Linked DNA regions of Homo sapiens. The protein of the gene in region 1 purifies or fractionates together with the protein of each later gene. This does not show direct contact. Each region holds a gene or a part of one and is shown in the gene's direction. Other genes may lie near its edges.

Evidence for each region.
Region 2: the proteins of ESF1 (region 1) and SEPTIN7 fractionate together in Homo sapiens (co-fractionation; one large-scale study listed by BioGRID). This does not show direct contact.
Region 3: the proteins of ESF1 (region 1) and AATF fractionate together in Homo sapiens (co-fractionation; one large-scale study listed by BioGRID). This does not show direct contact.
Region 4: the proteins of ESF1 (region 1) and NAT10 purify together in Homo sapiens (co-immunoprecipitation; one large-scale study listed by IntAct). This does not show direct contact.

Annotation. Positions count from the first base shown.
Region 1 is NC_000020.11:13,755,152-13,762,763, reverse strand, and holds part of ESF1 (ESF1 homolog), read left to right. Parts: intron 1-2,910; coding exon 2,911-3,072; intron 3,073-7,612. UniProt on the Homo sapiens protein: May constitute a novel regulatory system for basal transcription. Negatively regulates ABT1.
Region 2 is NC_000007.14:35,802,576-35,810,187, forward strand, and holds part of SEPTIN7 (septin-7), read left to right. Parts: intron 1-7,612.
Region 3 is NC_000017.11:37,013,154-37,020,765, forward strand, and holds part of AATF (protein AATF), read left to right. Parts: intron 1-5,851; coding exon 5,852-5,919; intron 5,920-7,612. UniProt on the Homo sapiens protein: Part of the small subunit (SSU) processome, first precursor of the small eukaryotic ribosomal subunit.
Region 4 is NC_000011.10:34,110,223-34,117,834, forward strand, and holds part of NAT10 (RNA cytidine acetyltransferase), read left to right. Parts: intron 1-1,829; coding exon 1,830-2,001; intron 2,002-3,493; coding exon 3,494-3,616; intron 3,617-5,600; coding exon 5,601-5,662; intron 5,663-7,612. UniProt on the Homo sapiens protein: RNA cytidine acetyltransferase that catalyzes the formation of N(4)-acetylcytidine (ac4C) modification on mRNAs, 18S rRNA and tRNAs.

The DNA of each region.
Region 1 (7,612 bases):
TATAATCTAATTTAGTACCTCTCATAGATACATCAGCATATTCAAATGCCTTAAAGCTACTGAATATTTCTGGTTATTGTTTATAAGAGAGCATAGCAGGGTGGCTTACTGTTAGAATTATTATTCTTTCACTCCTTATATAGTATTAAGGGTTTCACAAACTAGTGTCCTTGAATTGGGAAAAAACAGAGCTACATGACTTATCCCACATTTTAGAGCTTCAGATTGTAAAATTTCAGTACTGGAAAAAATCAGTTTAAAGTAAGCCATCAGAGACTTACCACTAAAATTTCAACCTGGAAGGAGCTTGCTTCTAATTATGTTTTCAGAAGTAAGCTTTTAATAGAAAGAAATACTTTGCCATTTGTTAATGTGTTCCTGATGTTTTATCCATTGAATTACGGGATACATGACAGAATTCCATCCAACATTATTATTGTGGCACAAAGCACAAACAGGAAAAAAATGAATTTCAGCTGTTTGAATGAAAATAAAAGTGTGATAGGATGGAAAGAATGTCCTGGACCATTTTTTATTTATTTTAAGAAAACAATATATACATATAGAAATATTTACTTAACCAGTTTTTTTCCATATCACTTTTTTAAGATATAAGGACATTGATGATATAAGGACTTGCTGAAAAAAGAAAAAATAAATGAATTTTAAAAATTAAAAAAGATACAAGGACAAAATGAATTTTAAAAACTAAAAAAGATACAAGGACAATCTGTTAACACTGATGTTTCCCAGCTAAATGCTTAATAATGTCAGACATTTTTGGTGAGCAGTTAGCCATAGGTTATAGAGGAGAGGGACTTCATTATCCTGCTAGTAGAGTTTCCTTTACTTGAGACAGTCAATTCAATAAGTCTGTATGTTTTGCATTAAAACCCAGGTTTCTGATTTGTTTTTGATTTGGAGACTTGCAGTGGAAATGTAGAACAAACTTTTTGGTGTATTAGTTTTCTTGGGTATTTGTTGCCTGTGAATTTTATAATGTTTCTTTGTATTTTAATTATTTTTGCAGAACTAGGAAATGCAGATGTGAATGTTTTTCCACACAGTGAAATTAATTGAAGTAACTCCTAATTCATTTTTATTCTTAATATATTAATGAGATCGTTGGAGTAAGCATGCTTGCTCAAAAATGGAAAGGTTCCAGTATTCTTAGGTTTGGATTATAAACAACTGCCTTTATCTCTTCTCTTCAGGCTGAATAGCTGCAAACCGAATTCATCCCAACAATATTCAGCCTACATTTATTCAGCATAACATTTTAAAGCCACTGTGCTGGATAGTGGAGGACATAAAGAGGGATAAAATGCCATCTTCTTTTTTTTTTTTTTTAATTTTTTGTATTTTTATTTTATTTATTTTTTTTTAATTGATCATTCTTGGGTGTTTCTCGCAGAGGGGGATTTGGCAGGGTCATAGGACAATAGTGGAGGGAAGGTCAGCAGATAAACAAGTGAACAAAGATCTCTGGTTTTCCTAGGCAGAGGACCCTGCGGCCTTCCGCAGTGTTTGTGTCCCTGGGTACTTGAGATTAGGGAGTGGTGATGACTCTTAATGAGCATGTTGCCTTCAAGCATCTGTTTAACAAAGCACATCTTACACCGCCTTTAATCCATTTAACCCTGAGTGGACACAGCACATGTTTCAGAGAGCACAGGGTTGGGGGTAAGGTCATAGATCAACAGGATCCCAAGGCAGAAGAATTTTTCTTAGTACAGAACAAAATGAAAAGTCTCCCATGTCTACTTCTTTCTACACAGACACAGCAACCATCCGATTTCTCAGTCTTTTCCCCACCTTTCCCCCTTTTCTATTCCACAAAACCGCCATTGTCATCATGGCCCATTCTCAATGAGCTGTTGGGTACACCTCCCAGACGGGGTGGTGGCCGGGGAAGAGGGGCTCCTCACTTCCCAGTAGGGGCGGCCGGGCAGAGGCACCCCTCACCTCCCAGACGGGGTGGCTGGCCGGGCGGGGGCTGACCCCCCCACCTCCCTCCCGGACGGGGCGGCTGGCCGGTGGGGGCTGACCCCCCGCCTCCCTCCCAGACGGGGCGGCTGGCCTGGCAGGGGCTGACCCCCCGCCTCCCTCCCGGACAGGGCGGCTGCCGGGCGGAGACGCTCCTCACTTCCCAGACGGGGTGGCTGCCGGGCGGAGGGGCTCCTCACTTCCCAGATGGGGCGGCTGCCGGGCGGAGGGGCTCCTCACTTCTCAGACGGGGTGGCTGCCGGGTGGAGGGTCTCCTCACTTCTCAGATGGGGCGGCCGGGCAGAGACGCTCCTCACCTCCCAGACGGGGTCGCGGCCGGGCAGAGGCGCTCCTCACACCCCAGACGGGGCGGCAGGGCAGAGGCGCTCCCCACATCTCAGACGATGGGCGGCCGGGCAGAGATGCTCCTCACTTCCTAGATGGGATGGCGGCCGGGAAGAGGCGCTCCTCACTTCCTAGATAGGATGACGGCCGGGCAGAGACGCTCCTCACTTTCCAGACTGGGCAGCCAGGCAGAGGGGCTCCTCACATCCCAGACGATGGGCGGCCAGGCAGAGACGCTCCTCACTTCCCAGAGAGGGTGAAAATGCCATCTTCATTATCTTGCAGCTTATAGGAAAAAGAAGCCCAAAGATGTTATGTAACTGCAGAATTATTATCCAATATAAATTTTAATAAAAAGGGGCATTCCCAAGCATACTGCTATGACAGTGCAAATTTATATTGCAACTGATTTTTATTCTACATGAGACCCTAAGTCTTTCATTTAATATTCAGAAATTTAAGTCTGATTTTGATATCCTGTGGTCTAACAGCATCTTTTAAAAGAGAGTGACCATAAGATCTGAACACGAGTTAGAAATGAATTGTTTCTGTGTATTAAGTGAATTTTTTTTTCATTAGGTGATGATGGAGTCAATGTAGAAGAAGATGGGAAAACAAAGAAAAGTCAGAAGGATGATGAAGAACAAATTGCTAAATACAGGCAGCTCTTGCAGGTTATTCAAGAAAAAGAAAAGAAAGGCAAAGAAAATGATATGGAAATGGAAATTAAATGGGTTCCAGGTAAGAATTAGATACTAAATGTTTTCTCTTTTTCGAATTTCAGCATGTTGAGTACCTTTTAAATATGAAGGAGCCGGAAATGTTTTGGTGAGGACCTTAACATCATATTTGCATACACCATTTAACTAACTTAATGACTAGCATTTTAGACTCTTACCAACTTATTTTTAATTGGTTTCTTTGATTTACTAACTATAAATTTTTCCTGTCCATTTATCAGAGTAGCTTTTCCTAGGTTTGAGCCTGTATTCTCAAGATATAGAAACTTGAATCCAGGCACCACGTGTTCTAAAGTTATTACACTTCTTTTGAATGTTTAATTCTTAAGTGACCTTTTCTTCCATAACCCCCACTAGTCCTTAATTCATGAGGTTTCACTAACACAAAATATGTATTACATAGTCTTCGATTTTCAATCTTGCTGCGAATAGTCAAAGAAATATAGCATAGTAGAGTAAAATAGTACTAGTACAAAACTAATTAAAATCATGTCAAAGCTAAACAAAGATAAAAGCTGGGATAAATGGGATCATTCTGTAGTAAACAGCAGTTGCCCCTTTTTCATGGTTTCACTTTCTGCAGTTTGTTACCCAGTATAGTACAATAAGATACTTTGAAAGAGAAAGAGGAAGAGAGATTATATTCATATAACTTTTATTACAGTGTAATTATTCTGTTTTATTGTTGGTGTTGTTAATCTCTTACTGTGCCTAATTTATAAGTTAAACTTTATCATAGCTGTAGATGTATAGGAAAAAACATACTAGCTATAGGATTCAGTACTATCCATGATTTCAGACATTCACTGTGGGTCCTGGAATGTATCCTCCTCAGATAATGGGGGACTACTGTACACATTTTTTTCAACATTGTTGGGCAAATCATCAGGGACTTCTGCAGTCAATACTGTTTTTATAGATTACTGCTGTTTATATTATATATGTGTATAACTTTTAAAACCAGATATATTTTTGGATAAGGGTTCAGTTCTTTAGCCTATATTAGTCACTAGGAGAAAGAGTACTAACCAGTTGTAGGAATACCATTGCTTAAAACTTAAAGGTGTTCTGTTACCAATTCCATTTTTATAAGTAGCGTGCTTTTGTATTGGGAATAAAACATATGTTTGCGTGGGTTTTTATTTGGGAAAAAAATAGGGTATTTTGATATTTGAGGATTGACTGGCTATTGTAGTAAATTTGCTAGGATGGACACTGGCTATTGTAGTAAATTTGCTAGGATGGTCTGCTGCATATTCCTACAGGAATGAAGTGCTGTGTTGCAACCCATTTGTTTTAAATGTTTGGCTTTTGCAGGAAGTGGTGGTAAGAACGAATGAAGTTTACTGGTGTATCATATGACAAGTGGTTGGGAGAACTCAATTGATTTGGCCTGGAGAGGAAAAGTCTAAAAAGTGATTTTAACAGCTATTTTTAAATACTTGCAGAATATGTAAATGAAGACTTAATCTCTTTTATTACCTCACAGGTTAGCAGTACTGCCAGTGGATAAAAGTTGAAGGAAGGTAGATTTTAACGTAATAATATAAAGAGGAATTCTCTATATTATTAGAATTGTCTCGCAGAAGAACTGAAGGCTGCTTTAAGGGGTTGAGCTCTCTGTGTCAGTAAATCTCCACCATAAGGCTACATAATTATGCTACTCAGAGATGTCTGTTAAGAAATATTTTACTTGAGTCCCTTGACTTTATGATTCTAAGAAATGTTGAATTCTGTCTTTTAAGTTGAATATATTGTAGTTTAATTCTAATCTTAGAATGAGCTTATTGAATATATTTTAATATGAACATTTTTAAATTGAAGTGTTCAGTTGTCTGAGAAAGCAGATCTAAAATAAACTGGATTGAGGTGTTTTATAGCAAATATTTCAGAAATATATAATGCCAGTTGTAAGGTACAGATATATGATACAGGTTCCCACACTAAGTGGACCACATCTAGATTGTGTCTTTATTAACATAATTATGAAACCGGGCACAGGGGCTCACACCTGTAATCCCAACACTTTCAGAGGCCAAGGTGGGTGGATTACTTGAGCCTCAGATGTTCGAGACCAGCCCGAGTAGCATGGCAAAACTGTTCCATCTCTACAAAAAAATACAAAAATTAGCTGGGCATGGTGGCACACGCCTGTAGTCCCAGCTACTGGGGAGGCTGAGGTGGTAGGATCACCTGAGCTCAAGGAGGTTGAGGCTGCAGTTAGCTGTGATCATGCCACTGCACTCCAGCCTAGGCAACAGAATGAGACCCTGTCTCAAACAAACAAACAAACAAAACATAGTAATGTAGGGCAAATACCTAAAAGTGGTATTTACACCTGTTATCTGTAACTGGAAGTTATAAGCATTGCTTATATTTCCTCAGATAAACCCCACCTTGGTCATGGTACCTTATCTTTTTATATATTCCCAGCTTAATTTAGTAATATTTTATTAAAAATATTTGTACTTGTGGCAAAGAGGAATATGATCTGTAGTTTTCATTCCTCGTATTGGTTTTTGGTATTAGGGTAATGTTGACCTTATGAAGTGAAAATGTAAAATGAAAGATTATCATCTGTAATTCCACTATCCTAATTCAACCACTGGTTAAGAAGATTACAGTTTAATTTACCATTTCTCTGTTGTTGAATATGCAATCAGATTTCTAATCTTTCACTACAGTGGACTTATAACATTGAAAAAAAAATAGGACAGATCTCAAACCCACAAATAACAAGCTTTTCTTAAATTTCTTCATTTTCATGAGCAGCCAAGTAATTGGCTTGCCTTTTTAGGGCCTTTTAATTTTAAAAACTTTTAAAACAGAGGTGTGTTTTTCATCTCTCCCAGCCTAGAAATGTTTCCAAGCATGTCAGGACTAGTAGAGAACAACCAGGCCACAATGAGAAGCTGATGCCTAGCATTCAGGCTTAACTCACTAGTTAGTTACGTGACTTCCTTGCTCACACAGCAACTCTACATGTGCTGTAGATCAACCTGTGGTTCTCTCACAAGCTGTTAAAACTACCAGTGTCAAAACCTCAAATGTTAAATCCCAGATGCCAAGTATCTGGGATGTTATAAATAACCTATAGCTTTTTCCATATTTTGAATTATTTTCATAGGATAGTTTCCCAGAAATAGAGTTACTAAGAAAGGGCATGAATACTTTTTGTGTCTTGAAGTTATTGCCAAATTGCTTTCTGGAAGTGTTGTACCAGCTTATAATACCTTCAACAATCAGTAAGAGTGTCAGTTTCACGGAATTATCGTCAACATTGGGTATATATTTTTTACTTTTAATTGAATAGGGGAAAATTGATATTTTAATGTATGAGTTTCAAAGGTCTTAAACTGTAATATTTTGAAGGCCCCTAATGAGGTATTGTTATCTGTGAATCCTTATGTACATGCACGCATGCACATGCAAGTGTAAAGGGTTTTTCTGTGTGCTATACATATAAGATCATTGAGCAATCTTTCTGTACCTCAGTTTATTCATATGGAAATTGGAACTAATAATACCACTTTCTTGCTTAGAGATACTTACAAACGTTATAAACTACAAAGTACTTTCATGACGTGTATTTCAGTGAATTTATGTCTTAAGAAATGTGTGTTTTCTGTAACAGTTACCCTGAACCTCAGGACTTTTTTGATGTTATGCTTCAGTAAACCACGGAGGGTCAGTATGAGATTATACCGTATCATTCATTGGTTCTGTGGCTTGACTCTCCAAAATATTAACCTCTTCAGGAAAATAAGTACTCTTAATCACTAACATTTATTGTGGTTTGGTTTGATTTTTCAGAAGAAATTCTAGTTTAGACTATTTAAACGTTCTACCTTTTTACATTGGGTTATACAGTATAGTAACATGAGGAGTTTAATTTCTTAAGGGTAAGTATTAAGGGAACTGATAACAGGTTTGTGGGCATAACAACTGGAATGAGCTACTCTTTCTATCAATATTTTAGTTCCTATGGAAATGTAATAATACAATTTTATTAATTAGGATTATAAATAAGTAAAAATGTTGAATTATAAAATTTTTAAAGAAAGTTATACTTAATTATTTTGATGTATGTGAAGTTGTATTTCCTATCTCAATGCGTTGCTAAAGGTATCCTGCCAACTTACTAAGGAGTAGATAAGGTGATGCATATAATTAGCCAGTTGGGCCTTCATCAAGAAATGTACCTCGTTGAGGAATTTCTAATACACGTATAAATGAAGTGTAATCAGTTTTAACTCTTTATATAACTTCCCCTGTATTAATAGTCCAGTTAATCTACATAATATTTTTTGTAGATAATGCAAGCTGAATATAAACAATATATATGAAATTCCATCCAGAAATAAATAATGGCATGTTTGTTTATAATCTTAAATTTTTGATTATGGTAAAAGTCCTGTTTTTCTTAGCTATCTCTGGCCTAATAGATATTAGTGAAATGGATAGCTGGTCTTTTTTCTACTCAGCACTCTACAGAACCCCAACTTCTCTTCCTTACTCCATCAAATACTTACTGAATACCT
Region 2 (7,612 bases), on another chromosome or scaffold:
TACATATTTATGCACATGCAGGTGATGAGTATAGTCAGTTTTTCCCCCTAAAGTTTATGTGCAGACATGGGGAGGAGAGTATTTTAGACTTAAAAGTGTACAGGTAGGGATGAAATTTATGGAATCCTGATAGACTGAAGGGGGGATATAAACAATGACCAAGTCAGCTATTGCTGCTTGGATTCTTTATTTCTTCAGACTGCAAGGGAATGAGTAAGGGGTGGTTGGGTGGTGATGGGGGGGTGGTACGGTCGTGGCGGGAGAGCAGTAAACAATCTTTCATCTCATTCAGCTGTTCAGTGGGTGGGACTAAAGGAGATAAGAGTTGAGTGAAGCTATGAAATAAATGTGGAAGCTACATAGGTGATTTGCATGGTAGCATTGTCTTATTCTATGATGGGACAACATGATGGAACCAGGTCTTCATAACACAGTTATTAAAAATACATATTTTACCACATCTTAGGCTTACAGAATTCAAATTCACAACAAATAACAGAAATGTTAAGTTGATTTTAATTAGTTCTTATCCTTTAAAAAGAAAGGATATTGTCTTTTTCTAATGTAGCTTAACAATTTTTGTTGCAGGCTTTGGTTTGGAGATATTTGATGCATACATAATACATGAAAGGTAGTGTTAAAAGATTGTATTTCAGAAGTTTGTGATAAAATTGGTTGTTCAGATTTGCACATTGTCCCGTAGAAGTCATTTTAAGTAAATCCATGCCAGAACTTCTGAACAAGTCTGAGGCAAGTTAGGAATCCTTACAGAACCTAGGAGAATTTAGAGGAATATGCTAGGACAACAACAACAACAAAGCTTGGGGGAGAAGAGGGAGGAAGAAGAGTTACATCTATGGCTTCTAAGGTCTCAGTAATGGAGAGTGATCAGATGAGGGACCAGTCAGAATAAGGATAGTGGTAGAGCAGATTAGTTTCAGACTTTGTATAATTTGATGATATACATATTCATTGTAGACTGTATTCTGGGAATTGCCGATAGAGAATTCCTACCTGACTAAATTGCCTGCTGAGAAATGTGTTTCACATTTTGAATTAATAAGCTATCTTCAATTTTTGATTATAAGTTGAACATTTTAAACTAATGATTTATGTCTTTTACTAAGTTTTGAGACAAAACTTTTTGTATACTTCTTTTTTTGTACTAAGTTTGGACTGTAAAGATAAACTTTATTATACAATAGAAACTGAAGAAAAATTATGTTTTTAAGGAGCAGAATTGTAAGGTAGTTTGATTATGGGTTTAGTTCGCTATATGAGAGCATACTGTTAAATGTAGACCATTGAACTCTACAGCAGTGTTTTGAAGACTGCAGGTTGTGACCCATTAGTGGACATTGCACTTAATATTTTGAGGGAGATTAAATTTTCTTTCAGGTATTGTGTACTAGGTGGGGAAGTAATTTTTTTTAAGGATTGTGGTCAAAATGTACAGTATGGATGAGTCAAATCTAAGGTCTTCGAACCTTATGTTAGGGGTTGGAGGTCTTGGTGTGAGGAAGGAAGACTTTAAAATTAAAGACTGTTAAGTCCGTGTGGCTTTTTCTTACTTTGGATTCATTTATCCTGTACTCCATGTAGCTCGCATGGTTAGAGAGATCTGAGGCCTACTCCTATTTGAGAGGATGTTATCCCCCATAGCCAGAAACCAGGGTGGCTTCCAAAAGAAAAGGGTAGCATTCGGTGACTCTGCTTTAGGCCTTGAGGATGAATCTTTTCTTTGTTTTTGTCTTCCTGTGTCCTTTTGCATCATCAGAGATCTGGAGACTAAGCTTTGAGCATGGGCTTGGGGAAGAGGGGCCAAAGAGGCAGCTTGGCTGGCATTAAGTGTTGAAGGCCGTAGACCAGACACACACTAAATCCTTGTGACTTACACTTGGTGCAGTCCAGCTATCCAGATGTAGGGATTACACATTGGGGTTTGAGTTCAAAATCTTAATAATGATTTAGAACATGGGCTTTGATGTTAGATATGGATGCAAATCTTGGCTTTGCTACTCAATAGATACACCAGTCAGAGTAGGTTAGATTGTAATTTTAAAAACTACAGTTAGGCGTTGTTAACAATACGGTACATTGAGAAATCATAGAGTATTTTACCTACACAAACCTAGATGGTAGAGCCTACTATACACCTGGGCTATATCCTATTGCTTCTAGGCTATGAGCTTGTATAGCTTGTTATTGTACTGACTACTGTAAACAATTATGACAAATGGTAAGCGTGTTTCTTTTTTTGTTTTTTTTTTTTTTTTTTGAGACGTAATTTCGCTCTTGCTGCCCATGCTGGAGTGCAATGGTGCAATCTTGGCTCACCGCAACCTCTGTCTGCCTCCTGGGTTCAAGCAGTTCTCCTGTCTCAGCCTCGCGAGTAGCTGGGATTACAGGTGCTTGCCTGCCTCAGCCTCCCAAGTAGCTGGGGTTACAGGCACTCGCCACCACGCCCAGCTAATTTTTGTATTTTTAGTAGAGACGGGGTTTCACCATGTTGGCCAGGCTGGTCTGGAACTCCTGACCTCAAGTGATCCTCCTGCCTCGGCCTCCCAAAGTGCTGGGATTATAGATGTGAGCCATCACGCCCGGCCAAGTGTTTGTGCTTCTAAGCATAGAAAAGATGATGTGCTGTACTATGAACTTGTGACTGCTATGACATCACAGGTGATATGAATTTTTTTAGCTCCATAGTAATCTTATGGGACTACTGTCATAAATGTCCATTGTTGACCAAACGTTGGACATACTGCATGACTATACTGCAAATAAAAAAAGTGGAAATGGAATAAGAAAGATAAACTATAAGCCCCAATTTTTTATTATTAGTTTCAATAGACATAAAATTATTCTGCTATTAAATTTTCCATTTTTGTGCTCTCAATTTGTGTTTCTCTGACATAAACTGATAATTCACAGACTGGCTCATTGGTCCACAGACCACACTTTGCATAGCACTAGGTTAAACTATGCTGCAGCAACAGACTGTCATGCTAAAGTTTATGTACAGTATTATGTTTTAGGCCAGTGTTAACTTTAAAAATACTATACTTTGAAAGCTGAGAATTAAGTATCCCCTGTGATTGGGGGGATAGCCTGAAGCTGCTCCTGCTTACGTTATTTTGAAGTTTTCTAAGTCTTAAGTATTCATGTGTCATTTGCATTTTATTCAATGTTTGTTTGCTTTATGTGAAATATAAAGATGATATTCTTCCTCCTTCCCCACTGATCTGGAAGTAAAAATGGACTTTCCTGAAGTTGTAACATCTTAATTCTGTTGTTTTGTTTAACTCTGGGACACAACTGACTACTTCTGGTAGCTTTATTGGAGGTGAGGCTCCAGGTCAGAGTTTCTCATTTGAGGTTTTGTAATTATTTGAGGGAGGGGAGGGCTGTCTTGAGCATTGTACAGTATTTACCAGCATCCCTGCTGTCATCGTGCTAAGATGCCAGCAGCACATGCTCTCTCTGGTTGTGAAATGAAAAAAATGTCTACAGACATTGCCAAATGTCACGTGGGGGAGCAGAATCATCCTTGGTTGAGAACCACTGCACTAGGTGATGGAGAGCCATTGAAGGATTGTGGGAGACGGGGAAGAAGGAACAAGCTTCCTTAACTGTCTTACTTTTTACTTCTTCCTGGAACTCCTACCACTTAATATTCTTAGTATTTCCTAAACTTGGGAATCAAAATTACCTAGATTTTTTTGTATTAAAAGTTTATCATTAATTGATATATTTTTGCAAAGCATGATCAGTAATTACTGGACATAGAACATTATGCTAGGTCATTATTTTCTAAAGTATGGTTGAAGGGTCAACCATGGCTTGGAGTTAAAAATGCAGATTAACTGGTTCCCACTACAAGACCCATTGATTAGCAATCTCTGGGAGAGGGACCCAGGAGTCTACATTTCCAAATGCTTTCCGACTTATCAAGTAACTTCATTATTGTATGCTTTCATAGAAAAAAATACGTGGATTTTAAGTATTTAGTTCAATGAATTGCTGATGTGCATACACACATCTTGTAGCCTTTATTCTAATCAAGATAGAGAATACTTCCACCATCCCAGAGTTTCTTGTGCCCTGTTGGAGTTCTCCTTCTACTGCCCCAGGTAACCACTGATAAGATTTCTAATAGCCATGAATTAGTTTTTTTGTTTTTGTTAGTTGACTCATTTAAAGTGTTTTTTCTGGGTAACTTTCTAAAGTCTCCCCATCCCTATAACTTCTTTATTATATAAGATTTCAAATAAAATGAACGTCATGGTGTTTTTCAAAGAATACAGATTCTCATAGTGTTTCACACTTTGATAAATGATAGGCCTGGGATGGGGCCCTGAAAATCTTTGGCTCTGATTGACTGTTTTCAGGAAAATCAAAACTATTTTCCACCAGTTTTGCTGTGCTTTATAAAATATATTTGAAATATTCCTGCAGTGGTAATTTGAAACTTTTGTAAACTTTGTTCATTGATTTAACAAGTATTTGACTCCAGGAAGTATCAGACACTTTGACACCATAGCAATCAAGAAAGCTGTGGTCATGGATGTTATGATGTTTCTGTTTTCATTTCTGAAATTGCTTTTTTAAAACTTTTTTTTTTTTTTTGAAACGGAGTTTCGCTCTTGTTGCCCAGGCTGGAGTGCAATGGCACAGTCTCAGCCACCGCAGCCTCCGCCTCCCCGGTTCAAGTGATTCTCCTGCCTCAGCCTCCCGAGTAGCTGGGATTACAGGCATGTGCCACCATGCCCGGCTGAATTTTTTTTTTTTTTTTTTTTTTTTTTTTTAGATGGAGTCTCTCTGTGTCGCCCAGGCTGGAGTGCAGTGGCGCGATCTCGGCTCGCTGTAAGAAGGTCTGCCTCCCGGGTTCACACCATTCTCCTGCCTCAGCCTCCTGAATAGCTGGGACTACAGGCGCCCGCCACCGCGCCCGGCTAATTTTTGTATTTTTAGTAGAGACGGGGTTTCACTGTGTTAGCCAGGATGGTCTCAATCTGCTGACCTCATGATCCGCCCGTCTTGGCCTCCCAAAGTGCTGGGATTACAGGCGTGAGCCACTGTGCCCTGCCAATTTTTGTATTTTTAGTAGAGACAGGGTTTCTCCACATTGGTCAGGCTGGTCTCGAACTCTCGACCTCAGGTGATCCACCTGCCTTGGCCTCCCAAAGTGATGGGATTACAGGTGTGAGCCACCGCACCTGGTTGCTTTTTAAAAATTTTATTGGGAGGTTTTTTGTTGTTGTTTTGTTTTTTTGAGACGGAGTCTTGCTCTGTCACCCAGGCTAGTGGCATGATCGTGGCTCACTGCAACCTCTGCCTCCTGGGTTCAAGTGATTCTCCTTCCTCAGCCTCCTAAGTAGCTGGGATTACAGGCACATGCCACCACGCCTAGCTAATTTTTGTATTTTTAGTAGAGACGGGGTTTCACCATGTTGGTCAGGCTGGTCTCTCCTGACCTCGTGATCTGCCTGCCTTGGCTTCCTAAAGTGCTGGGATTACAGGTGCAAGCCACCGCACCCAGCCTGGTTTTTTTTGTTGTTGTTTTTTTTAATAGGTAATATAATCACTTGGTTCAAAATTCAAAAGGTTAAACAGAGAGATACAGTGAAATCTCCTTCTTACTTCTACCCCCAAGTCACCCAGTTTCCTAGTCCTCGGCATCCTGTGTTAACAGTTTCTTGTATGTTCTTCCAAAGGTGTTTTTTGCATATGGAAGTTAAAAACATTTATCCTTCCTGCCCCCACCCTTGGTAGCATTAAGACACATTATTTCCCACATGTTTTTTTCCAATGAGTGTAATTTGGGTTATTCCGTATCAGTACATAAAGAGCATTCTTATTCTTTTATACAGCTGCATAACCGTTACATGATATCTCAGTCTGTTTGTGCTGCTCCAACAAAATACCTGAGACTGGGTAATTTATAAGGAACAGAAATCTATTTCTTACCATTCTGGAAGCTAGGAAGTCTAAGATCACAGTGCCAGCAGGTTTGGCGTCTCTGCTTCCAAGATGGCACCTTAAATGCTACTTCCTTTGGAGGGAACAAATGCTGTGCCCTAACATAGTAGAAGGAGCAAAAGGGTCAAGCACCTCCCTTGCACCTCTTTTATAAGGTCATTAATCCTATTAATACCATTACTAGTGATTAAGTATCAACATACAAATTTTGGGAGAACACATTAAGACCATAGCATATGGATAGATCATGATATGGGATATATTTTGATTTGTTTAACATGTCTGCCTCTGATAGACATTAATTTCCAGTGTTTTGCTATTACCAACTTTGACATGGTGAGTCACTTGGGATATTGATCTCTTCACATTTGTTAGTGTATCTAACAAATACACTAACTGTTAGTTTTTGAACTCTTTGAAGCAGGAGACTACCACTTAAAAGTTGTAGTATTGACATTGTCATTATATCAATAATGTATTGATGTTATAGTATCATAACATTGATGTTAAGTATTGGTAATATTGCTGTTAAGTCATTAGTTTAGAACTTCAACAATCAAGTTCATTCACTTAACAAATACACGTTTTGTACTTGCTGTGTGCTGGCCACTGGGGAAACTGAATTAAATGCTGTGGCAGTTGAAATAGAGGCATGGTGATTAAGAGTTTTCGGATCTAGAGTCAGACTTGGATTCATATCTCAGTTCTAAAGCTTAACTGAACCTTTGGCAAATAACAGAACTTCTATTTTTCCTTCTCTGTAATGTGGGAATCATAAGGTTATTGGAGAAGTAAATGAGATAGTACATGACAAATCCTTAGCATGATGCCTGGCATATAATAAACACTGAGATGTTAGCTTAAAAAAAGTTATCAGACTATATTGCAGTTGACTTTATGTTCTGCCTCCACTGTGCTTAAAGTCTAGGCCTGTGTTTTGTTCACCTTTGTGTCCCCAACCCATAACTGGCTTGCATTTAGTAAAAAATTTGTGATACGATATAAAGGTATGCAGAGCATACAGTGAAAGTTCAAAGCAGGATACCTTTTCCATGCTGGAGAAGGTGAATCTTTGAAAGTCGGTAGGAGTGATTAGGTAAAGGAGGTGAAGGAGTAAAGATAATTATTCTAGACTGAGAAATTATGTTAGTATCAGGTTATGAGGTTAGAAGAGGTAAGTAGGCAACTGGTATTGCTGTGCTGAGAATTTAAAAATCTTTATTGAAGGCTTTAAAAGAAAAGTGGTAATCGTAAGAATCGTGATGATAATTCTCTCTGTTGAGAGTTGACAGGGCACCAGGTTGGAGCCATTAAATTGAAGGAGTTTAATGTAGCAGTTTAGGACTAAAAATTGGTCAGAAGCAGGGCAATGGGAAAGGACATGAGGGGGATGGTTGTAAGGTGTTAGGGAAGATGTGGGTGGTGAGTAATGAGTCCAGAATATTTGAGCTTTCTGACTTGAGTGAATGGGTAGATGAATAGATGCTATTTCTTGAAATAGGTAATTTGAAACATGAAATTGAGAGGCCTGGGGGACATCCAAGTGGACATGTCTTGTAGGGTCTCAATACTAGGAAGACATCTAGGATAGAAAATAAACATTTTCTGATAATTGTAAATGTATTCATTTGTG
Region 3 (7,612 bases), on another chromosome or scaffold:
GCAAAGGGTCTGAATAGACATTTCTCCAGTGAAGATATACAAATGGCCAGTAAGCACAGGAAGATGCTCTGCATCATTAGCCATTAGGGAAATGCAAATCAAAGCTGCAATGAGAATGTATCATACCTGCTAGTATGGCTGTCAGTCAGTGTTTACATTATTATTACTAAGTAAATGTTGTTCTCAAGTGTCTTAGTCTGTTCTGCATTGCTATGAAGGAATACCTGAGAATGGGTAATTTTTGAGGAAGAAAGGTTTCTTTGGTTCACTCTTCTGCTGCTGGGAATTTTGGGCTTCTAGTGGAAGCCTCAGGCTGCTTCTGTTCATGAAGGAAGGCGGAGGGGAGCTGGCATGTGCAGAGATCACGTGGCAAGAGAGGAGGCTAGAGGACTGAGGCATGCCAGGCTCTTTTCAACAGCCAGCTCCTGGGCTCTAATAGAGCGGGAACTCACTCCCCACAACCAAGGGAGGACTTCATCTATGCATGAGGGATCTACCTCCATGGCCCAGACACTTTCCATTAGGCCCCTCCAACATTGAGAGCAAATTTCAGCATGAGGTTTGGAGGGGACAAACATCCCAACTATAGGAACAAGCGCTATATTATGATTACATTTTTCTTACAAATTTGTTTTTTCCTAGAGCTAATAATGCCTGTTTTTAAAAGATTTGCCTAGTTTTCTGTGTAACTATTGCTGTTTTTCCCTATATACTCCACATGCCTTGAATATATAAAATAACCTATCCTTTTGCACCTCCCTTCTACTTTTTCCCCTTGGAGACCTCATCCTAGAGCTCTCTGGACTCTTCTGGCGTGGCTGCACACCAGGCCTGCTGGCTGTATTCCTGGGACTTGCCTTTGCTTCTTCCCTGAGTTAGACCTCTCGTTTCTAATATCTTATGTCTTGATTTTAGTATACTCATTTACTGAAGTACATCTTTCTGTGAAAGAGTACACAGAAAGTAAATTGTTGAGTCCTTACGTGTATGAAAAATGCATTTATGTAACTCTCATTATACTTGGTTAATAATTTGGCTGAGGAGGCAGAGGCTGCAATGCGCTGAGATTGCACCACTGCACTCCAGCCTGGGTGACAGAGCAAGACTGTCTTAGTAATAATAATAATAATAATAATAATAATAATAATAAGGCTGTATATGGAATTTGAGTCTGGAAGTCATTTTCCATAGAATTTTGAAGGTACCTTGCTGTCCTCTGCTATCTGCTCTTGCTATTGAGACGTCTTTTCCCATTCAGATTTCCATTCTTTAATATGTAGGGCGACTGTATAATTTATTATCAAAACTGGGACAGGTAAAGTGCTAGTCTGACAGCATATTAGGACAACAGGTGTAAACCAGGACTTTCTTGGTAAACTGGGACATATGATCACCTCTTTATATGTAACCTGTTTTTTCTTTAACTGCTTAGGATCTTCTCTTTACCTCTGGTGTTCTACATTTCATGATGATGTGTCTTGACAGAGGCCCTTTTTTATTCATTGCACTAGGTCTTTGCAGTTGTATTCCTGTTCTTTCTTTGATTTGGGAAAATTTTCAGTATTCCTTCAAACATTTTCTCCCAGCCTTTGTTAGTTAGATGTTTGACTTTCTGGATTATCCTCTAAATTTTTGTCTTGTCTTGCAAATAAGCAAGGGGATATTATCTTTTTGCCTTTTGGCTTTCTTTTTGTTTTATATCAGAGATTTTCATTCATTTAAGTTCTTCTGTTGGATTTTTTAAAATTTTCTGTTTAGTGTTTAATTTCTCATTTTAGTCTTTTTCACAGCATCCTGCTCTTATCAAAGTATACCCTCTCCCACTCTTGGGATATTCATTGTAAGTTTTGGGGGTTTTTTTCTCCTTTTTAATTATTTATTTTGTTCTCTGCATTGCTTCCTTGAGTCTCTTTTCTATTTGTTTGGTTTGTGCATGAGGATTTCCTCAGATGCAGGCGATCCTTAACTGTCTGTTCATATTTAAGAGTAAAGCATTAAAGTTTATTATTCGGAATCTCTGAAACCTGGGCAGAGCTTTTTGGCTTCTTTAAATATAATTATGCTGTGAACTGACCTCTTTGTTAGAGTAGCCTTGGATGTCAGAATTTGTATTTGTTTGCTTTGTTTTCTATATATCTATTTGTTTGTGCTGCTATAGTAAAATACCACAGACTAGGTAATCTTAAAAGAACAGAAATTTATTTCTCACAGTTCTGGAGGTTGTAAAGTCCAAGAACAAGAAGGTGGCAGTTTCTGTTGTCTGGAGAGGGCTGCTGTCTGCTTCCAAGATGGTGCCTTGATGCTGAATTCTTCTGAGGGAATTCACATGGCAGAAGGTGGAAAGGCAAAAGGGACAGACTCCCTCCATCATGCCCTTTTAGAGGGACGCCTAATCCCATCCACGAGGGCAGAGCCTGCATGACTCAGTCACCTCCCAAAGGCCATTCCTTCCAATACTGTTGCATTGGGGATTAAGTGTTCAACATACGGATTTTGGGAGACACATGCAGAAGACCATAGCAACTTTGAAATCTAATTTTGGGGGTGGGAGGGCAGACACCATTCAGTTTCTTCCAGAAAAGGCTCCTCTGCTTTCCTGCCTAGGAAATTATAGAATGGGATGTTAGCTTTCTACAAATGAGGTGGGAGAAAGGGAGAGGTTTCAGAGATTAACATAGAGCCTTTCCCTTGTACCTCATTCCAGCCTTCTTTGCCTGGTATCCTCTATTCTGGAGCTTCTGTGGTTCAATATTTCCAAAGAATAAAATTTCTTTTCTCTCACGAGAGGAGGTGGGTGGTAGAGGTGGTTAGTCACTTGGCTGTGTGGGATAATGGAGGAGGCCCAAGTGGTTCTGCTCCTTCTCTTTTTCCCACCTTGCGTGGTAACTGCCAGAGAGCTGATCCTCACAGGAATTCTGCGGCCTAATACAATTAGCTTCATCTTCACCTTTATTCACTCTGGGCATTTGGGTGATAACTTCTCCATCTCCTTACTGTCTTGGAAAAATTTATGAAAATATGCACACATTAGTGCTCCTTTTCTCTTTTTTCTTAGGAGTTAATATTTATTTTATTCCTCAACTGTCTCTTAGAGGGGTTGAGAAGAGATAAACTAATGTGTTCAATCTGCCATTTTTAACTGTTTCTAGCATGCATTTTTTCTAATGAAAGTATTATAAATGTTGATTAGATGCTTAATAGTACTATTAGTCCTGTTCCTCATGTATATTGGTATGGGTTAAATAGGTTTCTGTGGCCAACCTGAAAACCTAACTGTATCTATGATTTTCCCTTAGAACTAGAGGTATAATCAAGCCTTTCCGAATTGATTATCTGGAGGAATTTTAACAGACTAGAGCAAAAACATTTTCTCTCTCTCCATTTTCCAAATCACATAGAAAATTACTACAAATACTATATCATCATTGTTGAAATAAAAAGCTCTAATAATTGTAACAGAAACTTGAATTTTAGTAGAAAGGTTTATTTGTAAAGTTAAAGCTATACAAATTAAAATCAGAAGTAAAATTGAATTCTTCAGCCAATATCTCAAATCTCTTTTTTTTTTTTTAGCAACTGTTTTGAAAGCAATTTTCTAATTAAATTTAAACCCAGTGATAGTGGTAGCTTTGGGAAAATAGTAATAGCCACGGGAATCATTTGTTTAACTGTATTTTTTGTTGTTGTTGCTTTCTTTTTCTTACCATGGACACAACAGAATCTTCTGAAATATTGGACTGAATAAACTAGACCTAGCTAGATAGACCAATAAAACAATCTTCCAAGTCATGAATGAGTAAAAATAGTTATGCAAAGCACTTGTGTGCGAAAATGCAGCTCAGAATATGTATAGTACACAAAGTGTTTGAAAGTAAATGCTGCACCAACTTGGTGTTGGAATTGCAGAGACCACTGCAGTGGGGAGCTCCAATTTCCAGCCTTTGGCAAGGGCATATTCTTCCCGAGGATCACCCTGTTGTGCTGGGGCAGCCTTCCATGAGCACTTGCACCCCGGTGACCCTGATTGCCCAGTCTCAAGGGATCTGAGAAAATTAGGAAAACCAGGAACGGTTGTTGTAATCTTTTGTATGGCTGGAACGAGGTAAGGGCAATGAAATGCAGTTATTCCATTATTTTCCTTCCTTTTTATTTTTCTTTCTCTTTTATTTCTTCTTCTTTATTATTATTAACCACTCCCCCTCACTCCCCCTACTCCTTGCTTTTGACAGAATATTGACTAGGAACCAGAAGCCCATTTCTGCTTAGCCTTAAGGGCAGCTGTTTACACAGCAGCAGTGTTACATAGGTTTACTGTGTCATATGTCTGTGTAACACTGGATTTGGATCTTGTATTTAGCTGCCAGAAGTGACTGTGATGAAGTAGGAGAGATAAACTGATAGATTGGCTGCCAGAAAGATGTTGGGAATCAATCAGATAAACAGGGTAGAGAAATAGCTTGCTGTTTTCTAGTGATAATAAAACCAGCGGCTTCTGGTCCCTGCATTCTTAAACATAATTGCTGTAGTAATAATGTCCAAAATAAGCAAATGAAAAAACATCATGGGAGGTTTTCTAATTGCAATTGAGATATCCTTTTCCCTTTTGCAATAAAGATTCATCTTTTGGAAGTGAATATTTTTTATAAATTTGTTTTACTTCTTCCAGTGCCTACTTACATAAACATATGAAATTAGAAAGAGATCTGCTTTCAGAGGAATTTATTTCTCTTTCTTCATTTGAACCACTGAAGCCCACAGGCTTCAGCTATTTGATTTGATGAAATATCTCTATTGCCACCATGCCTCACCTACAAAATCATTGCTAATTTTTATGAAGAAACAAGTTTTAAGGCCAAACCTGGATTATTGACAGATGATTAGCAGAACTAGTTTATCTTAGCGTCTTCTCTTAAATTTCTCTCAGAAGATTTTTGGAATTTTAATCTCTGTTTCTCTTTCTCTGCATATAGCACTTATAGTTCTATTATCGTAATTCAGGGTTTTTCTCCCTTAGTGTTTAACTTTTAAAACCATTGCTTCTCTTCGCCCAAGGACTTTAAGATTCAGTGCAGATTCTTAAGTCTGTATGAAAGGTACAGATGTAGATTTCAACTGGGTGCAGAGGAGTCAGGCTTAAAATGACAGTAGGAGAGTCATTTAGAATAACTCCCATGGAGTTAATTGTATTGGATGAGAGACTAATCCTCTGTGGTATATTTGCAGTATGCAAATGACTTTCTTTAGATTCCCTCTTAAAATTTGTGTGGCTATGAATGTGTTGGTATCATGTGTGGCTAAAGCACTTAATAGCAAGCATGGTAGAGTAGCAGCTGTGGAAAACAAGAGGCCGATGCCCACACTTTTAATTACATACAGTAAAGGCTTTTTGCCTGAGGAAGACCTTCCTGACTGTTGGAGGTTATAGTTCAGAAGTTAACCTTGCACCATTATCCTGTTGGTGAGAAGCTGATGCATTTCCCTTTTTGCCACACGGCCCTTCCCACCTGACCTTTTAAAGATTCTCCATTGATATCAATGGAGTGGACAAAACTAATCATAAAAATAATGAAGGGAATGTTGCATACTCATTGATCTATTTGAAATGAACTGCGGTACAATAAGTCTTCCAAATGGACTTCTGTTCTCAGCTACTGCTATAGCCACCTTTTTAAAGATATATAACTATGAAAGCGTTAACGGGAATTCAGTAATGCTCTTGCCACTGGGTTGTCCCTTATTGATTGTAGTTTTAGAGCTGTCACTATGCCATTCAGAATTCCTTCTCTGCCCTTTTAAAGTCAGTTGTACTGGAAGATGATAAATAAATTCGTTGCTTTCCTTTTTCCCCTAGCTCCTTCGAGAACTCATAGAACGGAAGACCAGCTCCTTGGATCCCAACGATCAGGTGGCCATGGGAAGGTAATTTAGATACAGCTTTCTGTTCATGCAAGCAGCCTATGTAATAGTTTCTCCCCTTGAGTCCCTTTAATTCTACCTGCAAAGCAATGATTGGTCCTATAATTATTGAAGTTAAGCAAGTAAGAGCTAGAAAGAAAATGTGACTAATTGTTTACCCTACATTGCCTAAAGTGCAATTTGTAAAGAAATTATAAAACACCTATGTGTTTGTTTTTAGAGTTTGTTTTCCAAAGTCTTTCTTATGCTCTTTGCTCCCTGGTTTTGCATTGTGATTGTATCCATATCAATCTGTTGACCAGTGGATACAAAGCAGCCATCCAAATGTGAGCTCTCAGCTGTCAGAACATGGCACTGCGCACAACAGGTTCTTTGCTCTCAGTCGAATCTGCTTTGTTAGAGTCTGCCCTAATTTAGACCTCCACCTCTTCAGTAAAAGCTTCAGCACAATTAGAAGTGGAACGTGGCAGCATTACCCAGATGTCAGGGCAGAATGTAAAGTAGTGAAGGAAGGCCCTTGTGTGTATGCTTCATCCTGTGGTTGGAAAATAAAAAGGGCATTTAGAATGCTACCTAATGAATAGTGTACATTTAAATAGCCATGAGCCATAATTTGCAAAAGCATGAAAGGAAACAAAAGCTGCAAGTGCCAGAATGGGATTCTAGGCAGAGCAGCCATTCGAGAAAGCAGTGAAAAATTTGTGTTGATGAAATAATTTTATTTAAGTAAAATATTATGTGAATTTTAGGGTAGGATGTTGATATTTCGTTTATCTCTGGAATGTTATAGAGAGCTGTTCGCTATAAATTTAATGTGATAGAGCAAATTGCATTTAAGTGGTGATTATATTGTACATTTATCTGACTTTACAATAAAATAGATTATGGTAATTAAGATTATATTAAGATTACAGTAATTGGATTTCCCTAGATTTTTTTTTTCTGGTGTTGAATTTTCGTTGTATAAATCAGGTAGGATGACTAGCTGCTGCTGCTGTTTCTCCTTCTTTTTCTTTTTTTCACTTTAGTTCATATGAGCAATTTATGAAGATTTTCTTAGCCTAATATCCCTTATTGAAAAATTAATTCCTTCTTATCTAAAATGACTGCAGAATATGTGAATCTTGTTTGGATTCTGATCCAAACAAGCCAACTGTAAAATTGAGACATTCCAGGAAATGTGAAGACTGACTGAATATTTGATAATAAAGAATTATTGTTGACTTTTTTTTTTAGATGTGGTAATGGTATTGAGATTATATTGAGGGGAGAAGAGTCCTTATCGCTTCTCTTGTATAGCAACACGTACTGAAATATTTATAGATGAAATGAAAATTAACAATTTAAACAATTTAAACAATTTAAAACAATTAAAAACTAGTATCAGTAGTGGATAATTATTTAAAAATTAGCAAAAATTGGAAAGCACAAGAAAAAGCACTGGAGGATTACCAAAGGGAAAGTTAGATTTTAAAAATTCATGCATTCAAACCAACCAGCAGTTGCAACATTAGTAACAGAACATGCTGCATAGCTAAAACATTAAAAGAAAACCCAAGTAGCTCTACTAAATCTGATGGGTTTGCCTGCAGACTGGTAGATTTAGTGCTTGTCACAGCAACTCCAAATACTAAGGAGCATTGTGAACCAAATTTGCTGTAGAATTTCCCAGCTGCCGTTTGTTTTTTTACCATTG
Region 4 (7,612 bases), on another chromosome or scaffold:
CTAATTTCCAAATGTGCTCATCTCCGATCTGACTCTGAAAGCCTGTCTCCAGCTCTGGTTGCTTTATGCTGTGACTAACCTCCCTCCTTTTCTTTGCTCATGCTGTCTCCTCTGCTTGGAATGCCACTTCCACCTCCCCGGTATCACCTATTGAAATCCTGTTTCTCAGGGCCTGCCTCCTCCGTGAAACTTTTCCTGAGCCCCCCAGTCATACCTGGTGGTTCCTCTACCTTCCTCTGCACTTGTCCTTCTCCTATAATGTTTGCCAATGGATGCTTTTGCTTTAGGGTAAAGTCACTTACATACTGTGACTTACGTTCATTTTTTTTTCTTTCCCTTTTTTTTTTTTTTTTTTTTTTTTTACTTTCAGGTGATAAGCTTATTTAGTTAGGAGCCCTCTTCTATTTATCTTTGTATTTTCATACTTTTAACTGATTTAGCATGTTTATCATAGGTACTCAGTATACATTGAGTTGGATGTGTTGTTAACAGGCTCTAAAATTATTTTAATTTAAATTAGTACCAGAGGCTAAACTTGCCCCTGTCCTGTGGTCTTAAAGTGAAGGGATTCTGCCTAAAGGAAACCAGACAATCATAAGAGCCTTACTGATGAAATGTGAAAAGTGCAGAAAACCCAAAGATGAAAATAAAAAACATCTCACTGTCTAGGCATTGTCAGCATCTAGGTGTATCTTACAGGGATGTAGTTTTGAACCATAATTGGTATTCTGTTGTATATACTCTCATATTTAGAGAGGTAGGCATTTTTAATACAGATTGAGAATAAGGCCTGTTGTCTATCCCAGAATTTTAAGTTTTTAGGGCTTCTGGTTTTCACTATTTTTCATTTGGCAAATATGAGATGGGTGTGGAATTAGGCAGTTCAAAGTCTTCTGGGCAGATTTGCCTTTTGAATTTAAACCACCTGGCTTCACTTCTAAAAATCTACTTTTGTACCTCTTATAGCTCTTCTGCCCCACCCCTGTCTTAGTCTGGCAGAGCATTGTGTTCAAGCTAATGCCTGTTTGTAAGTCACGGGCTTAAGGCCTGAGCCAGAAGGGACAGTGGAGACAAACTCACCCACTGCCTTGGTTCATAGATGAGGAAGTGGAGGCCCACAGGAGGAAAGGCCTTTGTTCTAGCTATTAAGTTAGAGAACTATGGTAAAATTTTGATCAGCTGTAATCCTCCATTCTAGAACATTCTAATTCTCTCTTTTGGTAAAGGAAAGGTAAGTAGCAACTGGATATGCAGGGTTTTTAAGACCAAAAAAATTCAGGAATTCCTTAGAGATGTCCAGATTCCATTCTGATCCCTGTGTCCTGTATCATTATTGTCTTATGTAAGACCTGCCCTTGAAGACATAATCCCACATTCTCGGGGAGGAAGTCCTCTAGGAAGGATGAATAAAGTAACGTGCCATCACCTTGTCTTTCCTAGGATCTCTGGGGAACAGCACAGTGTAGTTGAAGCATTGGCTTATGACTGAGATAATGAGGCCACTCAGGTTTGGTTTCAAGCTCTGGCTTTGGCCAAATGTGAGGGTTAGCTACCCTATTACCCATCTTTTAAAGCAAAGTATTTGCTCAAGGTCACAGGGCAAAATAGCAGAGTTCACACATAGACTTATCACTTACTCCAAGCCCTTAAGCACTCTAATGCCTCTCATGCCTCTCCACTGCCCTCCACCTGAAGTGGGCCTCACACTTTCAAGTTCCCTACTAGCTCTGAAAGTCTAAGTGGGTGATCACTGAGCCTTTCCCCTGGTTCCAGCTCTTTAGCTGCTCTGGTTAACTGGCTCTCATGGGATTGGGGGTGTGTGATTGCAGTCACCGGAAGAAAAGAATGCGACAGCTGCAGAAGAAAATAAAGAATGGAACACTGAACATAAAGCAGGACGACCCCTTTGAACTCTTCATAGCAGCCACAAACATTCGCTACTGCTACTACAACGAGACCCACAAGATCCTGGGCAATACCTTCGGCATGTGTGTGCTGCAGGTGGGTGGCTTCCTCTAACCTGTGATTGAAGTCAGAGTCTTGAGGGTTGCTTGGGCTGCCTGGCTTTCCACTGGGAACAGATGTACAGTAAGGAGAGGAGAGTCCCATGTTCCCTATGCCCAAGCATTATTAGTGGAAGTCCTGGCCACTTTCCAAAGTACACTCGGTCACCTACCCCATATAAAAAGAGAATTTTAAATCAGCACTTGTCTAGAGACACCAGAACTGAAGTGATGAGTTATTATAACGGGTTCTAACTAGCTAAAGCTGATAAAGCAAATGCCAGAGACTTTGAGTGCCTCTAGGACCCTAGGTCCTTATTGGCATTCACCAAAGACTTTTTTTGTCCAGTGAGCAATGGGACTTGTTTTCCAACCGGATATAGACCAATGCACTTAAATGTCCTGTCCAGAGTGCCTGAGTGGCATACCCACCATGAAGGCCCCTCTCCCCTTTTCTAGCCCTTAAAAACCCCTCACTTTACCTCTCAGAGACTACTTGGTGAATTTCTGCACTGGTGTGTATTCTCTTGCCTGGCAAGTTAATAGACTAAGTTTCACTTTGTGTGTGTGTGTGTGCATGTGTGTGTAAGCACTGGTGGTCTTTGTTTTATTCTTTGTTTCTTTGATTCCTGTGCCACCTCCCTTCCCCATTCTCCCAAAAAAGACAAGACAAAATTAAGCACAAATCCTCACATTTTTGTGTGTTTATCATATACACTTACAACTGTGCCCATTATTATGTCAAGTTACATACCTTGCAAAATATGGGTTGTCTCCTATACTGCTGGCTTGCATCTCACCTTGGAGGCCAAGAAAGAGGGCATTATGCCTCATTTTCACCTTTACTCAGGGAAATGCCCTGGGTTATCACTGATTGGTAGGGAGTGGTCTTCTACTTGCTGCCATGATCAATTGCCTGAATAATGACTCCTGTGAGCAGTAGCTCCCCCATGTAGTATAGTTTTGTCAAACAGGTTTGAGCTATAAATGTCAGAAAATGTAAGATGTTTCTGAAATTCAAGTATGAATCAGTGAAGGTTGGAAAATTTGTTTCCAAATAGGATTTTATCAGAGACATTTTTGACATATAAAACTAACAACGTCTCTAATAAGAGACCCGTTTTTGGCATATAAAACCAGGTATTCGTATATTCGAGGGTTTGGCCCTCTTCTGTGGTACCCCTGTGTGTGTATCCTGGGAAGTCAAGGTGGGAACAGGTATGGTCTTGGCTTTGTGCTCTGAAGTCTTCTTTTTGCCTTATCACCTGGCTTTTGGTTAAGAGTCCCTTGGGTTGGGCCAGGCGCGGTGGCTCATGCCTGTAATCCCAGCACTTTGGGAGGCTCAGGTGGGTGGTGAGCCAAGATTGCGCCACTGCACTCCAGCCTGGGCGACAGAGCAAGACTCCATCTCAAAAAAAAAAAAAAAAAAAAAAAAGTCCTTTGGGTTGCTATTTGCATGACCAGCCCTTTCTAACGCCCCCTTCTTCCAGGATTTTGAAGCCTTAACTCCAAACTTGCTGGCCAGGACTGTAGAAACAGTGGAAGGTGGTGGGCTAGTGGTCATCCTCCTACGGACCATGAACTCACTCAAGCAATTGTACACAGTGACTATGGTAAGCATCTGTTTTTTAACTTAATTGTGAGGGTTCAAGTAAATCTGTTTTTGCTGTGTTCTGCTTTCTTTAAAGAATTCCTGTTGGGCAGCTCCAGTGAGTAGTCAGCACAGCCTCTGGGCTAAGAGCTCTTTGATTTTAACTAATGAAAAAGTCACTACAGTTAAATCTCAGGGTCCATGAGTATGCCTAGGAATCTCTGAATTTCACCTTTGTTTTCAGGCACTTGCAAATTCTACACCAGTGAGATTCAGATATGATACAGCTTTTATGTAGTTAAATTTTCTGGAATGATATTGTACAAGGAGCAATGCCAGTGCCTAAATTTGTGTATTGCAAAAAAAGGACCATGTGCAGACTGCTCACTGGCCCTTATCCTAATGGATGACGAAGGAACATTTGCCAGTTGTACTCCAGTTTGGCAAGAATTTCAACTCCAGCAGAGATTGTGTTCTCCCAAAGCAAAAGACACTGACTGAGGACATGGTGAGGAATTAGGGATATGTCTCACCTGATGCAGAGCTGGTCTCCTCACTTTATCAGCGTTGCCAAGTCAGTGTTCAGAGGCAAGTTTTAAGTCATGCCCATGTCCAGCAGCTCAGTAATGGTGGTCGGATTGGACTTAGGGTTTCCTGAGCTGCATTTATCTGATGAAATGGACTTTCCTCAAATCTTAGGGGCTGTTTCCTGTCATTACTTCTCCCTTCATCACTTGCACTACAGCCCTTTTGGCCTCCTCAAATGTCCTCAGACATGCCCAGCACACACTCCTGCGAGGGCCTCGGCACTTGCTGTTCCCACTGGAATGTGCTTCCTCTGGACCTCTGCCTGGCTCGCTTCCTCATTGCATTCAAGCCCCTGCTCAGATATCACCTCATCCATGTGGTCTTTCCTCACACCCTGTTTACAGTAGGCAGCTCCGCCTGTCACTCCTTAACCGGCTTTATTTTTCTTCAAAGCACTTGACAATGACCTAAAGTTATTATTATTATTTGTCTGTCCTCCTGTACTAGTCTCTAAATTTCACTGGAGGGCCGATCACAGTGGCTCACGCCTGTAATCCTAGCACTTTGGGAGCCTGAGGTGGGCGGATCACCTGAGGTCAGGAGTTTGAGACCAGCCTGGCCAACATGGTGAAACCTCGTCTCTACCAAAAATACAAAAAAAATTAACCAGGTGTGGTGGTGCACACCTGTAATTCCAGCTACTAGGGAGGCTGAGGCAGGAGAATTGCTTGAACTCAGGAGGCGGAGGTTGCGGTGAGCTGAGGTCACGCCACTGCACTCCAGCCTGGGCAACAGAGCAAGACTCCGTCTCAAAATAAATAAATAAGTAAATAAATTTGATGGGAACAGAGAGTTAGTTTTCTTTGCTGTTGCATTTCCAGATCTTAGAAGAGTTCCTGGCATTTAGTAAGCATTCCTTAGATAGTTGAGAGTGAATGAATGACTTTGTGCTCACATCAGTTTGTTCTTCCTCTCCCTCTGACATAGCTACCTACTTACCCTTCAGGCCTCAGCTTATCTCAGAGAGGCCCTCCCTCACTACCCTACATAAGTGACCCCCACTTGCTATCCGTGCAGTCTATATTTCATATGTAGCATTTGTCAAAATTTGTATTTATCTACTAATTTTTCTTCCTCCATCCATTATACTCCAAGTGCCATGAGAACAGAGGTCATGCTTTGTTCATTAGTGTATGCACAGCATATCTGGCACACAGCATGCCAATTTTATGAAATAAATGAATATAACTTAGGATGCTAGGAAAAATGTGGAAAAGTGAAAGATTTTAATAAGCAACGTTGCATTCAGTGTCTGATCCCAGTTTCAGCAAATACCATTTGGCACAGCAGTGTGTGTGGGAGTGATTTTGTTTCCAGCAAGATTGCCCATGTCTCCTTGGATAGAGCTTTGTATTTGGACCCTGGTCCTCAGCACTGTTTGCATGCCTTTGTTAATGGATGTTGTCTTTCTTTGTTAGGATGTGCATTCCAGGTACAGAACTGAGGCCCATCAGGATGTGGTGGGAAGATTTAATGAAAGGTAATTCTATAGTTCCCCCCAATTGTGGGGCAGCCACATTGGGAGGGACATTTTTATCTTGGACTCAACTGAAAACTTTGCTTTTATATTGGGGAAAGTAGTACAATATTCCAAAAATGATGAGATTCTTGACAGCAGCAGCAGTTGTGAGACTAACTGGAAGCAGTGAAACGTGGTGGAAAGTTGGAGCCAGGAAACCTCAATTTTGTCTTGCTGCTGGCCTTGACAGCTCAGTTAAACCAGGTTACTCTCTCTGGTTCTTAGCTTACTCATCTTTTAAATGAGTGATTTTTCTGGATCACTGCTTCCCAGAAGATATTTCATAGAGCAGTAGTCTTTCCAAACTTTTTATTATGAATATGACGTACTGGCATAGTAAAAATGATTAAGAGAAATATGGGAGGTGGGGTGAGATGTAATTAGAGGCAGAAAAAGGCGACAAAGTGTTTCTTCTGAGCAAAGGAACACCCATAATTTCAAATATGGTGTACGGTTTGTTATCTGAAATTAAATTTGTATGTATTTATTTTTATTTTATTTATTTATTTTTTTGAGATGGAGTCTTGCTGTGTTGCCCAGGCTGGAGTGTAGTGGTGCGATTTTGGCTCACTGCAACCTTTGCCTCCCAGGTCGAGTGATTCTCCTGTATCAGCCTCCCGAGTAGCTGGGATTACAGGTGCCCGCCACCACACTCGGCTAATTTTTTGTATTATTATTATTATTTTTTTGAGACAGAGTCTCGCTCTGTTGCCCAGGCTGGAGTACAGAGACACGATCTTGGCTCACTGCAACCTCTGCCTCCCGCATTCAAGCAATTCTTGTGCCTCAGCTTCCCAAGTAGCCGGGATTACAGGAGCCCACCACCATGCCTGGCTAATTTTTGTATTTTTAGTAGAGACAAGGTTTCACCATGTTGGCCAGGCTGGTCCTGAACTCCTGACCTCAAGTGATCTGCCCCACTCAGTCTCCCAAAGTGCTAGGATTGCATGTATGAGCCACCGTGCCTGGCCATTTTTTGTATTTTTAGTAGAGGTGGGGTTTTCACTGTGTTGGCCAGGCTGGTGTCGAACTCCTGACCTCAAGTGATCTGCTCACTTTGGCCTCCCAAAGTGCTGGGATTACAGGCGTGAGCCACCGTGCCCGATCATAGAACACTAGTCTTTTAAGAGGGAACATATGAGGAGGGTTTGGCCATATATGTCTGGGAAACACCTATACCGTTTTTTCCTTTATGAAGATTTGCCCCAGCCTGTTGTAATCTCTGAAAAGTCTTGCAGCAGCAGGGACCTGTTTAACTGATTGTTTCCCAAATTTATTTTACCAAAAAAATTTATTTTTTTGAGGGGTGTGGGAACACCAGTTAGCACCCTGTGAAACACCTTAGGAAATTTTGACCTAAATCAGTGGTTCTCATCTGGAGCCATTTGGCCCCCTGGGGACATTTGGCAATGTCTGGAAATGTTTTGATCGTAATGACTTTGGGAGGGTGGTGGTGGGTGCCGTGGGCATCCGGTGGGTAGAGGCCAGGGATGCTGCTGAACAACTGGTGGTGCACAGGACAGCTCCACACCAAAGAATTATCTGGTCCAAAATGTCAGTAGTGCTGAGGTGTAGAAATCCGAGCCTTGATGAACCCTGGGGGCCTTTCTCATTTTAACCATCTGTGATGCACTAAGTCAGTAGAATGAGCAGATCAGGAGGAGCAGCTGTGTGCTACTGAATACAACAGAAGCCTATGAAATCCTTTTCTTGCAGTGGGAGGATGTTTGAATTTTATAGTCAAACGCATTTTTTTCCCTGCTTGCAAGAACGTTTGTATTGTATTTCTTTGGGGAGCTTTCCTTTCACCTTCTTCCTTTTTTTTCTTTTTCCTAGTGACAAAAGATGAATTCATTTGTATTTTTTCCCTGTGTGACTGGTGATCATATGGGGGTTGGGTTTGGAATTCCC